Linked DNA regions of Homo sapiens: region 2 is linked to region 1. The links come from fine-mapping of genetic effects on gene expression. Tissue or cell type: whole blood. Region 1 holds a variant in brackets; the other region holds the start of a gene. All regions are shown on one strand. Distances are from middle to middle.

Evidence for each region. PIP is the estimated chance that this variant, and not a neighbour inherited with it, causes the effect.
Region 2: SEPTIN9 starts here. The variant in region 1 is fine-mapped to the expression of SEPTIN9 in whole blood (INTERVAL, PIP above 0.99). The same link has a PIP of 0.9 or more in monocytes.

The regions. Positions count from the first base shown.
Region 1 is chr17:77,454,843-77,462,338 of GRCh38, forward strand. All of the region lies in intron 3 of SEPTIN9 (septin 9), which reads left to right. It overlaps LOC105371903 (a long non-coding RNA gene), which reads right to left and starts at 6,050. Exons shown (of 3, transcript XR_934990.3): 1 at 6,005-6,050; 2 at 5,481-5,540; 3 at 1,696-5,379. RefSeq lists enhancers at 1-436, 437-1,343, 1,993-2,606, 2,607-3,221, 2,646-2,725 and 4 more. The variant C/G (reference allele first, on the strand shown) is at 2,689.
Region 2 is chr17:77,278,320-77,285,815 of GRCh38, forward strand. It overlaps SEPTIN9 (septin 9), which reads left to right and starts at 3,180. Exons shown (of 12, transcript NM_001113491.2): 1 at 3,180-3,235. The coding sequence starts at 3,217. SEPTIN9-DT (SEPTIN9 divergent transcript) reads right to left here and starts at 3,578. Exons shown (of 3, transcript NR_136503.1): 1 at 3,293-3,578. RefSeq lists enhancers at 1,262-1,909, 7,129-7,496, 7,496 and a silencer at 3,511-3,674.

The DNA of each region.
Region 1 (7,496 bases):
TTCCCTGCTGGAACCATCACAGTAGACCTAATGATCTGCCTGCAGGAGTTGCTTCATCCCAGCCGACTCCGGGGCTGCGGGAAGGGGCTGGGCCTTGGTTTTGCTGGGGGTGGGGGGTCAGTGCAAAGGGCCTGAAAAGTGGCAGAGGTGATGGCCCATCTGTCCTCCCCCTGGCCGGCCGGCCTAAACGCGATTGGCTCTCTTTCTTTTTTTTTTTTCCCTCCCTTTTCCCTATAAATAACACTAAATGCGATTTGTCAATGCATTCATTTGGGTTCAGTAGTTGGACCATGGGCAGAAGCACTCCAGATTTGTCACTTTCCCTAAGCTAAGGGTGGGGAACACCCTCTGTGAGATCTTGGCTCCTGAGCGCCCAAGACTGCTCTTGGAACCCCAACTCTGGGTCGGTCTCAGGGGACTGACGTTGATGGAGTTGCTGACATTGACCTCCGGCCTCTGCATGGCCTTCAGGAAGGGGGCCCTTCGCTCTCTGTCCCGTCGAGCCTGGCTGGCAGCACTCCCTTCTCAGGCCTGTGCCCCCGGCAGGGCCTGCTGCCCCCGCCCTGCTCTGTGGGTGCCAGGCTCCAAGCACCAGGTGACTCGGTCACTGAATGGTCACTGAACAGTCATCCTTGCTGGTGTCCCCAGTGGAATGTGCATGGACGTCCTCCCTCCCCCAGATCCTTGTCTTTTATCTCTCAGCCTTTGTTCCAGGGGCCACCACAGGACCAGGAGGTACGCAGACGTGGGTGGCACATCCACTGGGCAGATTCAGCCCTGAACCTGCACGCCCCCTCCAAGGGGGCCCCCAGCGGGCGGGGTTGATGGTGCCGTCTCTCTCTCTGTCACTAGAACGGACATGAGGATTGTGTCTTGTCGATCCACGTCCTGAGTTCCCAGACGTCATAGGTGCTTGCTCAACGAGTGTTTGAATGAATGGTCAGCATTGTGTGACCGCAGATTTTCAACTTTTATCCAAATAGTTTGTGGTTTCTGTGAGGCTATCCCGAGACAGTCTCACAAGAATCTCCATTCTCCCTGCACGCTCCGCACAAGGTCTCCTTGGGGGGTTTTTCAGAAAAAGGGCCAAAGAGCAGCATTTCCTCGGGGATTTGAACACGATCTCCCCCGGGGCAGGGGACTGCCCTGGAAGATTCCCGGCACCGCTTCCCATGCGCCACGTGACTAGGAGGGTCTTGGGGCAGGATGGTGTCTTTTGTGCCTTGTGTGCTGGGGCCGGAGGAAACACTGCCCGTGGCCGGTGTCATCTGCCAGCCCTGAAGACTAATGATGGGCTGGACAGTGGCCCCATTGAGTGGGAGGGAGAATCGCTGCTGTCTGTAGCTGGGGGGCCGGGTGGGTGGGAGCCGAGGCCAGGGAGAACAGCGCAGACCTGGCACGGAGAGGCCTGGAGGAGGAGCAGGGGGTCTCAGCCACCCAGGGTGCAGGGACGCCACACGAGGAGCAGGTGTGGTGTGCGTCCTCCTGCGGGTTCTCCACCTCTTGGCTTCGTTACCTGCACTAGGCTTTGTGGTGAGAGGGCACAGAGTGGAGGAAGGTGCCGTGGCTAGGGCAGGCCACACGCTGTGCTAATGGATTGCTGTTACCTGTCGCCTCTGTGGTTTTGCTGTCAGGATCCTCCAGCACCAGGTCCCCACCACCAGGTATGGGCCCCACAGGCACTACTGGCTCCCCGAAGCCAGGGACAGACCCCATAGACAATACTGAGTCCCTGCAGCCAGGGATGGGCCCCCACGGCCAGTACCAGATCTCAGGGACCAGCACCGGGTACCCACAGCCAGGGACAGGCCTCCATGGCCAGTACCAGGTCTCAGGGACCAGCACCGGGTACCCACAGCCAGGGACGGGCCCCCATGGCCAGTACCAGATCTCAGGGACCAGCACCGGGTACCCACAGCCAGGGACGGGTCCCCATGGCCAGTACCAGGTCTCAGGGACCAGCGCTGGGTCCCCACAGCCAAGGACAAGTCCCCACGGCCAATACCAGATCCCAGTGACCAGCACTAGATGTCCACAGCCAGAGATGGGCCCCTATGGCCAGTACCAGGTCTCAGGGACCAGCGCTGGGACCCTGGATGACTGAAGGAGGGCACGGTTGACTAAAGCTGCAGGAGCCAGCCTGGCCATCCTGAGGCACTAAGCCATCACTGCGGTCTCAGGGGACTCAGACTCCTCTACTTGTCTTCTTGAATTCTGGAATCAGACACACCTGGGTCCAGCCTTTGCCCCCGGGGCTGTGTGCCTGGGATGGTTGCCTCACCTCCCTGAAGCTCAGTGAGATGGGGACGGCTGCACAGGGCCCGGCACAGATGGCACCCGATGGCACAGGGTCACCTGCTTGCATCCATACAGCCTCGGCCCTCGCTCTGGCTGCGTACCGAGAGTCCCATGCCCAGACCTCTGCTGAGTCTCCAAGCTCCTGGTCATGCCTCAGGCCTCCCGTGAGAAGCATCACTGCATGGACCATGCCTCGGGACCTCACCTTGGGCTGGGAAGCTTGCTCCATCTCCCCAAGTCTCCCCTAGAGGCGCCCCATGTCCCATCACTCTCACTGCTTGAGGGGTCAGATAGGGGAACCCAGTGTGGGAGGCCCAGAGGTGCCGGAGCAGACGTTAAGCGAGTTCCGTGTTTATGCGCTGGGCCTTGGCAGACACCCTGAATGAGCCT[C/G]TTCCCCAGGAAGGAGATTGGGGTCCCAGTCCAAGTTGTGGCCTCAAACCCTGTGACCAAGAGTGGAGAAAAGGCAAGACCCCTCCTCCCAGTCTTCCAGAACAGCCGATAGTGGTGGAAACATGGGGTTCACACTGAATTTCCTTGTAACTTGTTGAAGAGAATTTAGCCCACATTTTCAGGGGTGGAGGTCTGGCCGATTTGGCAGTGTGCCCGTCCCCCTGGCCACAGTTTACTCTGGACCGGGCACCCTGGTGCCCTCCCTCAGTGACGCAGTGAAGTCACTATGACGTGTTTAGTTGGTGAGAAAGTGCCTCCTGTAATGTTTTACTCTTCTTAGAGGGTGAATAAGCCTTGTTTATTATAAATAATTATTTACAGAATACATGAGGTTTAACCTAACTCTGGGCCACGGCAGCGTCCCCTGGGTAAACCCACGCGCCACCCTAGCTAGAGCCTGTGCCCCCACAGGCTTCCTGGACTCACCCTGAAGGGGGGCTGGATTTTCTGCCTGTCCCGATGAGAGGGCTGCAGGACAGTCCCCAGCGAGCCCTTCTGAGGGCTGTAACCTCTTCCCCTGGTATTTTCCTGCTCGCCAGGAATGTTTCAAGCTTCCAGCAGAAGCCTACCCACCATAGTCGCTTTCCACCCTGCTCACCATCCCTCCTGCCCTCACTCATTCAGCAGACCCCGTGCACAGCCCAGTGCAGGACTCAGGGTGGGAAGGTGTCCCGGGTGGGCTGGAGCAAGGTTCCCAGCCAGGGCGGGGTCCCAAGGTGGGTCCACAGCCAGGACTGTGATTTGGGAGGCCCCTCCCTGCCTTGTTCCAGCCCCGGCACCGCCGCTGTCCTTGTGCTCAGTGGAGACTCACTGGCTCCAGGCTCTAAAACCTCAGCGAGGTCTGCAGACAGGGAGGAGCCCCACTCGAGGGTAGAGTGACTGCCGGGTCCATTTGCCTGTTACGAACCACGTGGCCTCAGACCTGCCATTCCTCCTCTCCTAGAGCTATGGTCTTTTGTCTGAAAAATGGATAATGATGGTTACCATGTCAGGGACCATTTTGAGGACAAACGGGGATGAAACTGAAGAGGCTCAGCACGGAACCTGGACACAGAAGTGCTAATTGTGTGTTACCAGCTGCGGTGGCTGCCAAGGCCCAACCACATGGCAGCCACGGGCTGAGTGGCGGGCGGGAAGTGGGGAGCAGGAGCATGCAAGATGGGCATTCCTGAAGTTTCTGATCCAGTGAGATAAGTACACACCCAGCTCTAAGATGGAGTGTCCCAGGAAGGTGGAGACTGCAAAGGCCTTGTGGCGCAGGAGTGTGAGCTGCACCTCTGGGCTCTCTAGAATTTCACCAGAGCTCAGGGAGGAGGTCAGCTCAGATATAGGGGCAACGGGAGAGATGGGAGTGAGAAAATGGCTTGGCGTCTGGAAGTGGAGCCTGGAAAGGTGGGCGTGGGGACAGAGGAGGGCCTTGGGGGCCATGGGCCCATGCGTCCAGGAGGTGGAGGCAGTGAACGGGGCCACGGTCGGCCCCACACGTGGCACCACCAGCCCTGCTGAGCCTGCACCTGCTCCTCAGGCCCCCTGAGTGCCACTACCACCTGGCACCCCTTGGTCTGATTCCTGCTTCCTGCCCGCCTGGGAAGAGTGAGACCACTTGCCTAAAGTCCCTTAGCTGTCCTTAACCATTCTGGCTGCCTCCTGGCCCTGTCCAGGGTTAGCCGTTGACCTGAACTGCCTGGTGCCACCTCCCCAGACTCCTGGGGCCTTGCCCTGGCACCAACAGCCACCTCCATCTTCATCATTCACTCGCACATTCACCCAGCAGTGCTTTTTGGGCATCCACTCAGCAATATCAAGGCGCTGAGATGCGGCTGTGGTTAAGACCCGGGCCCGGTCTGTGAGGACCTCGCAGTTGCCATTTCCCCAGAGCACAGCCCCAGCCAGGCACACTGTGGGGTCCAGAAAGAGAAACTAATACATTGTGTTCGTCCATTTTGAGTTGCTATAAGGAATAGCCGAGGCTGGGGGGTTATTTGACTCACGGTTCTGCAGGCTGTACAAGTGGTGCCAGCATCTGCTTGGCTTCTGGGGAGGCCCCAGGAAGCTTTTCCTCATGGTAGAAGGTGAAGGGGGAGCTGGCACGTCACATGGCGAGAGAGAGAACTCCCAGACTCTTTTTTTTTTTGAAATGGAGTCTCGCTGTGTCAGCCAGGCTGGAGTGCAGTGGCACAATCCTCGGCTCACTGCAACCTCAGCCTCCTGAGTAGCTGGGATTACAGGCGCATGCCACCGCGCCCGGCTAATTTTTTTGTATTTTTACTAGAGATGGGGTTTCACCATGTTGGTCGGGCTGGTCCCAAACTCCTAACCTTGTGATCCACCCACCTTGGCCTCCCAAAGTGCTGGGATTACAGGTGTGAGCCACCTCACCCAGCCCTCCCAGACTCTATAGCAATCAGATCTCCCGGACTTTGTGACCGTGGGGAGGGCACCAAACCATCCATGAGGGATCCACCCCCATGACCCAAGCCCCACCCCCCCCAGGCCTTACCTCCAACATCAGGGATCACATTTCAGCATGAGATTTGGAGGGGACAACGTCCAAACCATATCACACGTGACCTCTCTGTGCGTGCGTCAGTTTCTACATCTGGTTAAGCAGTAGAAGCTCCTTCTCTGTTCCTTGTTGAGAGAGCGGTGGGGGAGAAATGACTCAGGGATGGGAGGCTGGTCCCCCGAGGGGCCCTGGTGTTTGTGGAGTGGGAGTGCGGGAAGGCCCCTACGTTGTGTGTGCCGTGCTGGGCTGGCTCCTCACAGCTCACCGTGGTGCTCCCCGAGGACTGCTGGGGAGGAAAGAGCTAATTAACTTGGGGACCCAGCTGCTGAAGTTATCATTAAACTTGAGCAGTCCAGGGGCCCCTCTCCTTCTGGGTCCTATGTCACCCAGCACAGTGGGGCTTAATTGAATTTTTTCTCATCCCCCAAGGCTCCTGGCTGGCGTGGCTGGGGTTTGGGATACGGGGAGCGAGAGGGCTTGGGCCTCTTCCAGATTTGGAGTGGGTTCACCAGAAATGGCCCAGGAAACCGCGGGGGCCACCCCCAGCAGCTGGGGGCTCCTGTGGTCATTTCCTCTTGGTCCTGTTGAGCAGCCCTGGCCCCTGGAGCCCTCAGCAAGGGATGTGGGGGCCTGCCAGGCCAGGGTCCTCACTGCTGCCGCTATGCACAGCTGCATCTTGCATCCGGGGAGTGGGGTGCCGAGTGGGGTGTTTGGGAGGCAGGTTTTCCCTTGTCCCTTCTGCCCAGAGACCTTGGGGATGAGTTGAGTGAGACCCTTCCGGCTTCTGACTGGCTGTGTTTCTGTTGCCATCCCCCACTCCTTTTAAGTGGAGGTTTATGACTTCCTTCTTTATTTAAAAGGGTCATTTAGTGACTTAGCAGATCCCAGTCTGTGTTACCCAGGGCCCTTTTAAAAATCTGTGGGGAGGCTGGGCTTGGTGGCTCACACCTCTAATCCCAGCACTTTGGGAGGCTGAGGCGGGTGGATCACCTGAAGTCAGGAGTTCGAGACCAGCCTGGCCAACATGGAGAAACCCTACCTCTAGTAAAAATACAAAAAATTGGCTGGGTGTGGTGGCACGTGCCTGTAATCCCAGTTACTCGGGAGGCTGAGGCAGGAGAATCACTCAAATCCAGGAGGCGGAGGTTGCAGTGAGCCGAGATCACACCACTGCACTCCAGCCTGGACGACAGAGTGAGACTCTGTCTCAAAAAAATAAAAATAAATAAATAAAAATAAAAATCCATGGGGGGACCTCTGTGTCCATTGGCTGGTGTGAGGAGAGGGTGAGGAGCTGCAGAGAAGGTACCAGGCTGAGGACCGCCCCCACCCTTGGGCTACAGAATTGAAGGAGGGGACACATGAAAGATGTTCCTAGACTCGGGCTGGAGGCTGGGGACATCCGAGGGCAAGGACGACGCTGTCCCTGCTCTTGTTTGCAGAGGAGTGCACAGGGCTCACCAGCTTCTTGTTGCTGTTTAAGTGATAGCTTTATGGAGATAGAATTCACATACTGTGACGTTGACCTTTTTAAAATCTACAGTTCAATGGTTTTGCTGTATTCACAAAGTGATTGTATTAGGGTCATCCAGAGAAACAGAACCAATAGAAGGTGTGTACGTGTGTTTAGATAAAGAGATTTATTATTATGAGGAGTTGGCTCACCTCATTACAGAGGTTGGCAAGTGCCAAGATTGGCAGAGTAAATCAGCAGGCTGGAGACACGGGAGAGCCCATGTTGCGGCTCTGGTGTCCACCTGAAGGCCCAAGACCCAGGAGAGCCAATGGCGTCGTTCCAGTCCCGAGACCCAGGAAAAGCGCATGTGTCAGTTTGAGTCTGAAGCAGGAAAAATCTGATGTTCCAGGTTGAAGGCGGTTAAGCGGGAAGAATTCTCTCTCACTCAGGCCTTGTGTCCTCCTATTCAGACCTTCAGGCCTTTGTCACAAAATTACAAAGACCTGATCAGAACAAAATCTGAGAAAAAACCCTTTCCTTCTATCGGTTTTGGATTCATTGGCTGGGACCCTGGAAATTAGACTGACAGAGATTAACAGGAAACAAGCATAACAATTCAAGTAAGTTTTACTTGACACCGAGCCTTCATAAGGAAATGAAGACCCAGAGAAACCGTTAGCCTGAGCGGTTTTTGTTTTGTTTTGAGACAAAGTCTCACTCTGTCGCACGTCCAGGCTGGAGAGCAGTGGCCCGATCACGGCTCACTGCAGCCTTGACTTCCTGGGC
Region 2 (7,496 bases), 180 kb before region 1:
TTGAGGTCAGGAGTTGGAGACCAGCCTGGCTAACGTGGTGAAACCCCATCTCTACTAAAAATACAAAAATTAATCGGGCCTGGTGGCAGCAGGCACCTGTAATCCCAGCTACTTGGGAGGCTGAGGCAGGAGAATCGCTTGAATGTGGGAGGCAGAGGTTGCAGTGAGCCAAGATCATGCCATTAAACTCCAACCTGGGTGACAAGAGCAAAACTCCATCTCAAAAAATAAAAATTAAATTAAAAAAATAAAAAAAAAATAGGCCAGGCGCAGTGGCTCACACCTGTAATCCCAGCACTTTGGGAGGCCTAGGCAGGTGGATCACCTTGAGGTCAGGAGTTGGAGACCAGGCTGGCCAACATGGCAAAACCCCGTCTCTACTAAAAATACAAAAATTAGCCGGTTGTGGTGGCGTGTGCCTGTAATCCCAGCTACTTGGGAGGCTGAGGCAAGAGAATTGCTTGAATCCGGGAGGTGGACGTTGTAGTGAGCTGAGATCATGCCACTGCACTCTAGCCTGGGTGACAGAGGGAGACTCTGTCTCATAAATAAATAAATAAACCAGGTGCGGTGGCTCACACCTGTAATCCCAGCACTTTGGGAGGCTGAGGCGGGGGGATCACCTCAGGTTAGGAGTTTGAGACCAGCCTGGCCAACATGGTGAAACCCTGTCTCTACTAAAAAAGAAAAAAATTACAAAAAAAAAAAAATTAGCCAGGTGTGGCGGGCACCTGTAATCTCAGCTACTCAAGAGGCTGAGGCTGGAGAATCACTTGAACCTGGGAGGCAGAGGTTGCAGTGAGCTGAGATCGCACCATTGCACTCCAGCCTCGGCGACGAGGGCAAAACTCCCTCTCAAAAAATAAAAAATAAAAATAAATAAATAAAAACAAAATTTGAGGCTTAAACAATTAAGCTTCGTGCATCTCTTTAATTTTTCTTTTTTTTTTTTAACTCTAATTTCATGACAGATTAAGCTTCATGCATCTCAAAAATGTGTAGAACCCTCATTCCCAGCCTTCCCTCCCTCTCTCTTGTCCTTCTTTCTGATTTCTTGGAATCGGAAGGAAAATTCGGATATCCAGGAACCATCACACAGGAGGCACCCATGTGATGTGTCCAACATCACTCCACGCAGGTGTCCTTGGGTCCTGGGTGCCCAGGTTCCTGTGAATTGTGACCCCAGGCAGAAGCGTGAGCATCCGCAGAGGAACCCACCTACCCAAAGCCAGGGAACAGCCAGGGCTGGCATCCTCAGGGTGACTGTGCTCCAGGGCACCTCTGACTTGTGCTGAGTAAAATGGACAAAGCCAGCAATGCACCCATAACCCAGATTCTTGAGACACCGCTGGACTTTGGGAATCCCAGGCATTAGGCTCGTGGCAGTGTCATCATGGCTAGGCTGGGGGCAGTGTCATCATGGTGCTTGCTGGCCAAGTCAGGACACGGCCTAAGCCGGAATCTGCTGGTGCTGGTACAAGCGGTGAGTGGGCGTGTGGGTGGGGGTTGCGGTTAGGGTGTGGACATCCCAGAATCCAGGACGCTGTTCACAATTCGTCCATACTCCCTGCTCCCCTCCCTTACAGCACTTCCCTCCCGAGGCCTCCTGAGCCTCTAACCCCCAGATAAGGAAAGGGGTGGACTCAGTTGAAGTCCAGTGTCCACTCCGGTCCAATCAGCTCTACCTGGGGTGAGGGGAAACTCCTCTGGCTGGGCTGCTCCCTCTGCAGGGCTGTGGCTGGACAGATTACTCAAGAAAGGAAGCAGGTGGGCCGGAACGAACCCACGGTGCCACATAGGCCTCCGTTCTCATGCATATAAGTTTCCCACACTCAGGCAGGAAATGAAAATGCTTCTTGGACCCCCAAGGAGAGTAAAGGAGAGGGGAAGAGGAGGAGGATTTTTCGGGGCTGTTAGTGACACTTTCAGCCTCCTGTGCATTTTTGGGAGGGCTGCAGGAGAAGGCAATGCTGCGCCCCTACCCAGAACTAGCGAGCGCTTCCCAACTGGCCTCCCGCCTTCCTCTCGTCCTCTACGGCCTCCATTGGCAGCTGTGCAAGGGCCCGGCCCTGCCTCTGTCTCTCCACACTCGCTGTGATACCTCAGGCCTCCCAGGCTCCGCCACGCCCTTCCCTCTTTCGGGAACAGCTGCCTTCCATCACCTTGGCTGCCTGGCTAATTCCTGCTCATTCCTTAAAACCCTGTTTTGATTTCGCCTCAATAAAACTCTGACACCACCCTCCAGTCATAATTAGTCACTTCTTCCTCTGTACGTTGGAAACACCGCTTTATCGTGGAGACTTTAAGGATATCCAAGTAGAGAGAATTCTTCCGTGCAAGTTTTGCATCCTCTCACCACTGCCTGCGTTACCCGAGTTGTAAAGGGCGGCTCCCTGTGTCTGCCCCGCTGCACCGATACACCGAGCTGCGCACGGTGCCCAGCGCAGGGAGAACAAATGATCATCTGTCCAACGCGCCCATTTACAGGTGAGGAAACTAAGGCTCCAACTCAATCGACGCACTCTGCCCTTTTGATTACCAGAAAAGTAGCAGGACAGGTGTCCTGTCCCGCCCTACCCCGGCCCACTAAGCCGGCACCCCGGCTCCGACCCCCGGCTGTGCCCGGCGCCGCCGCGGTGCCCGGCGCCGCCGCCTCGCCCGGCGGGGCCGCCCGGAGCGCCCGCACCTCCGCCCGCTTCCACCTGGCCGGGCCCGCCCCGCCCGGACTCGGGACTGGGAAGTGCGGCGACTCCCGGAACCAGCCATTGGCGCCAGCGCGGGGAGCTGGGGGTGCAGAGCTGCGGGCGCGGCGGGCCACGCAGGCGGCCCCCACCCCCGGCCTGGCCTGGTCTGGTCTGGTCTGCGCTGCCGCGCGGGGGCGCCCCCTCCCAGGCCCGGCGCCCGCCAGCCCCGCTCCGCCAGGTGCAGCGCAGCGCAGGGGTGGGCGGGGGTGGGGCTCGGCGCGCACGTTCACGGGGCGGGGAGGGGGCGGGTCAGGGGCGGGACCACAGCCGGCTGGGCCGGGGTTCTATGCGCATCTCCGGGGAGGGGCGGGGCGGGGGCGGGGCCGGGGCGGGGCCCGGTCGGTGCACTCCAGACGGCGGGCCGCCCCCTCTTCCCGCCTTCCTACTACCGGCCCAGGATTAGCGCCCTGGGAGCGCGCGCCCCGCTGCCTCGCCGCCACACTTTCCTGGGAGCGGCGGCCACGGAGGCACCATGAAGAAGTCTTACTCAGGTGGGCTTCGCGCCCGGGGTGGGGAGGGGTCGGTGTCCCGGGACCAGCGCTGCTCACCTGAGTGCCTGCGGCCGGGAGTGGCGAGGCGCCCCCGGAGCTGAGCGAGTCCCCGCGGCGGGCACACTGCAGGTCGAGTTCCTCCCAGGACAGGGCCGCTGTCGGGCCGCTTTCGACCTGAGCCGACCGTCCCCTGCGCTGTCTCCAGCCCTTGCTCGAGTGTCGGAGGGGCTGCCCTGGGGGACGCTCCCTCTTCCTCGCCCCTTGCACCCTCGCAGGAATCGCTGACTTTCCAGGTCGGCCGGGTGCTTTGGGTCCCTGTGCGTCTGTGTGGGTGAATGGGGTCGGGGCTAGGTGGAGGGGTGTCCTTGGGTTCAGCCTCTAGGGCTGGTGGTCCAGGCCGCAGCATCCTTTCTTCGGATTCTCTTCGGTTTCTCCTCTACTTAGTGGGGCACGGGACGGCCTCCAGATGGGACCGTCCAGCAGCGCCCAAACTTGGCGACTCGGGTTCACGTTTTGCGCTCAGGACGCCGCCCGCGGCTGACATCCTCACTCCACCCTAGCAGGGCCCGCCTTAAGTAGGCGAAGGGGGCCTGACTTGGGCCTCACCATGAGCCGGTTCAGGAGCTTTCATTTCATAAGAGGCTCCCGCTCTGGCACTCTGAAGTTCCATTTCACAGATGGGCACACCGAGGCCACAAGGGCAGGTTAAGAGAAATCCAGATCTTCATTATTTGTCTTTTCCTTCCTTTTTTTTTTCCTTTGTGGTTTTCTCCAAAGGATCCAGGCAGGCAGGATCCTTTGTCCTCCTCAGTCCTCAAATTATAAATAGCGTCTCCTCTTCTAAATCTAGAAACCGTTTGTTTAATGTCCCTCCTTTAATTCATTCAGATAGAAAGGTACCTGCCAAGGATCCATGAATTAATTTTTATTGATAGGAGAACAGAATCATGGGCCTTAGTTGGAGGTGAAGGAGTCATCGGGGCCATCCCCCTGCCTTTGGGCCATTGTCGGTTTCCTCTGGCTTTCCATATTTAGGAACCAAAATGAGTGATAAAGTACCTTGTCTCAAAGAGGATTACTCAGAACTTCCCCGAAAATACCCTTCTGGGTCAGTAGCTTAGAATTTCAACTTTCACCCGGTTGTTGCGAACAAGATGGCCCTCTACGCACCCGGAGCACAGCTCTGTCAGGAGCGTGGGTGGGTTGGTGTGCTGGTGGGCGGGAGCGGGCTTCCAGGTGGCACATGCTTGGTTTTGGCACCGGGGCTTCCTCCCCAACATGCTCCAAATACTTGAGATTGTTGTGGGGATCGCGCGGTGCATGGCCCTTTCCAGGGGATCTCTAGCCCGCCCAGGGAGGGCCCTTTGCCCTTGGTTTCTTACACTTTACCTCCCACTGGTGGGTCCAGACAGTGGGGGTGACCGGGGTCCTCCCAGGTCGTGGGTCCTGGGTTTTTTCTGCGGAGACCCTCCTGCACAGATGCCGGAAGGGCCCTGAGGCAGGCTTGGAGTCTCTGCACCTGCGGCTTACTGGGAGGTGGGGAGACCATCACTTGTCCTTTTCTCCTCTCCTCCACACACACCTACCCCACCCCTCACTGGGTTTCTTTTTTTTTTTTTTTTTTAAAAAAAAGGACAGAACCTTTTGCAGTAGGTGGAAGTAGAGTTTGTGGAGTGAGCAGGAACCAACTCTTGTACAGCAGCCTCGGTGCCTCCTTGTGTTTACCTAAAGGGGCAGGCCCCTCTGAGGATGGGGGAAGGGAGGGCTCAGACCATTTCTGGTTTGCTCCCTGCTTGGCAGTGGCCCAAGGTGTGCTGGGTCACTGTGTTGCAGTTGTATGGAGTGGGACTGGAGGGGGCTGATGGTGGGGGTGGCCTCTTGCCCTCATTCTGAGTGTCCTGGAGCTGTCTTGGCACCAGCCCTTTTCCGGGTACGGGCACTCGCAGGAGTCAGGCTGACCCCCCAACAAGCCATCGACACCATGAAATTAAGGAAAGCAGCAAAAGATGTTAAAAATCCCCCAAGGCTCTGACAATCCAAGGACAACAGGAAGGTCTTTATTTTTTCATCTAGACTGTGCGGGATTATTGCTTCCAGACCTGTATGTGGGCTTCAGAATAAACGGAATGACCATAATGTTGTTCCCGGTAGACCTGGTTTGAACATTCGTGAGCCTCTGAAAAGGAGAAAGATTTTAGAAGGATGTGTTGGGGCAATCTCAAGTACCGTGGGTCTATAGACAGTCATCGAAGACACTTTATGTGCTGGGCACACATGGCCAAGTCTGAGTGGGTACAGAAATGGTAATGAGATATAGTCCTTGCCTGCAGAGAACTTACATTCTCACCGGGAGTCAGGATGAGGGCGAGACACCAGCTCATTAACACCCTTCCCTCCTGAGCAGTTCAGCCTCCAAATACTACAGGAATGCCCCGGAGGTTTTAGGTGGAGGTGAGATTGAGCTGGGCCTTGAGGAAGGAGAAGTCTTGAGTAGTGGAGAATAAAAAGGGACTTGGCCAGGTGCGCTTGAAGTCCCAGCTACTCAGGAGGCTGAGACACGAGGATCGCTTGAGCCCAGGAGGCTACTCAGGAGGCTGAGACACGAGGATCGCTTGAGCCCAGGAGGCTACTCAGGAGGCTGAGACAGGAGGATCGCTTGAAGCCAGGAGTTCAAGGCTGCAGCCCTGTGACAGCGCCTGGAAATAGACACGGCACTCCAGCCTGGGTGGCGTCATGAGACCCCATCTGTAAGAAGGTCTTTTCCAATGCGGAAGGCAGCAAGGGCCCACACAGGGCAGCTGCAGGATCCAGGGGGACACTGGGGACAGGTTCTCTCTGGCAGCTCCACTGCTGCTCCAGGCTTTCCCGATTGCCTCACCCGGCCTTCCAATGGGGTGGAGGTAGTGGTAGTCTACAGGCAGTGTGGTCCAGTGGTTACACTTGGGGGCTCAGAGCCGCCAGCCCCTTGGGATTAAATCTCACCAGGCTGCGCCTCTCCCTGTGGCACAAGGTTCTCACCTCATGCATCTCATTTGCCTCATTTGTTTTTTTGTGTGTGTGGTGTTTTTTAATTTTATTTATTTATTTATTTTTGAGACGGAGTCTCACTCTGTCTCCCAGGCTGGAGTGCAATGGCATGATCTCAGCTTACTGCAACCTCCGCCTCCCAGGTTCAAGTGATTCTCCTGCCTCAGCCTCCTGAGTGGCTGGGATTGTAGGAACGTGCCACTGCGCCCAGCTAATTTTTATATTTTTACTAGAGATGGGGTTTCACCATGTTGGTCAGGCTGATCTCGAACTCCTGACCTCGTGATCTGCCTGCCTTGGCCTCCCAAAGTGCTGTGATTACAGGCATGAGCCACCACGCCCAGCCTGCCTCATTTGTTAAATGGGACAGTGCTATGTTGTTGTAAAGGTTAAACGAGTTCATATTTGAAAAAGCTGAGAAATGCCTGCTCTGTAACCTGTTAGCTGCTGTCATGATCATGATTGTCATTGACAGGAGGATGGAGAAGGCTGGGGTTACGCCATTGCTAGGACGTTCCAGAAGCCTCCATGATCTTCCCTTACTGTGGTCAGAGCATGGTGCAGGGTCTCTCCCCCAGCCCCTCAGCACTGGAGCCAGCTGCACTGTACCCGCCCTGGCTCTCTAGGTTCTGAGTTTTGGGACTCCCTTTGCATACTAGGTCACATGGAACTTGCCGTCATTCCCAGGCTCCCCTGGAAACTCTCTGTGGGTGGCAGCGGCAGGAGGACTTACCCGAGGCCGATGAGCCACAGAAGCGGGACTGAGGTTGCGTCACACCCCTACTGGCACCTGGGAATTACTCTGGAGATTCTTTTTTTATTTTTTATTTTTTTGAGATGGAGTCTTGCTCTGTTGCCCAGGCTGGAGTGCAGTGGCACGATCTCGGTTCACTGCAACCTCTGCCTCCCAGGTTCAAGCAATTCTCATGCCTCAGCCTCCTGAGTAGCTGGGATTACAGGCATGTGCCACCGTGCCCAGCTAATTTTTGTATTTTTTAGTAGAGATGGGGTTTTACCATACTGGCCAGGCTGGTCTCGAACTCCGGACCTCAGGTGATCCACCCGCCTCAGCCTCCCAAAGTGCTGGGATCACAGGCATGAGCCACCGTGCCCAGCCACTCTGGAGTTTCTCTGTGGCTTTCAGGAGATTCCTGAAGGGGCACCAGCCACGATTAAAAAGCTCTATGCTGTCGTGACTTCTGAGTCCTGGGCAGGGAGGGAGGCTGCACCCACA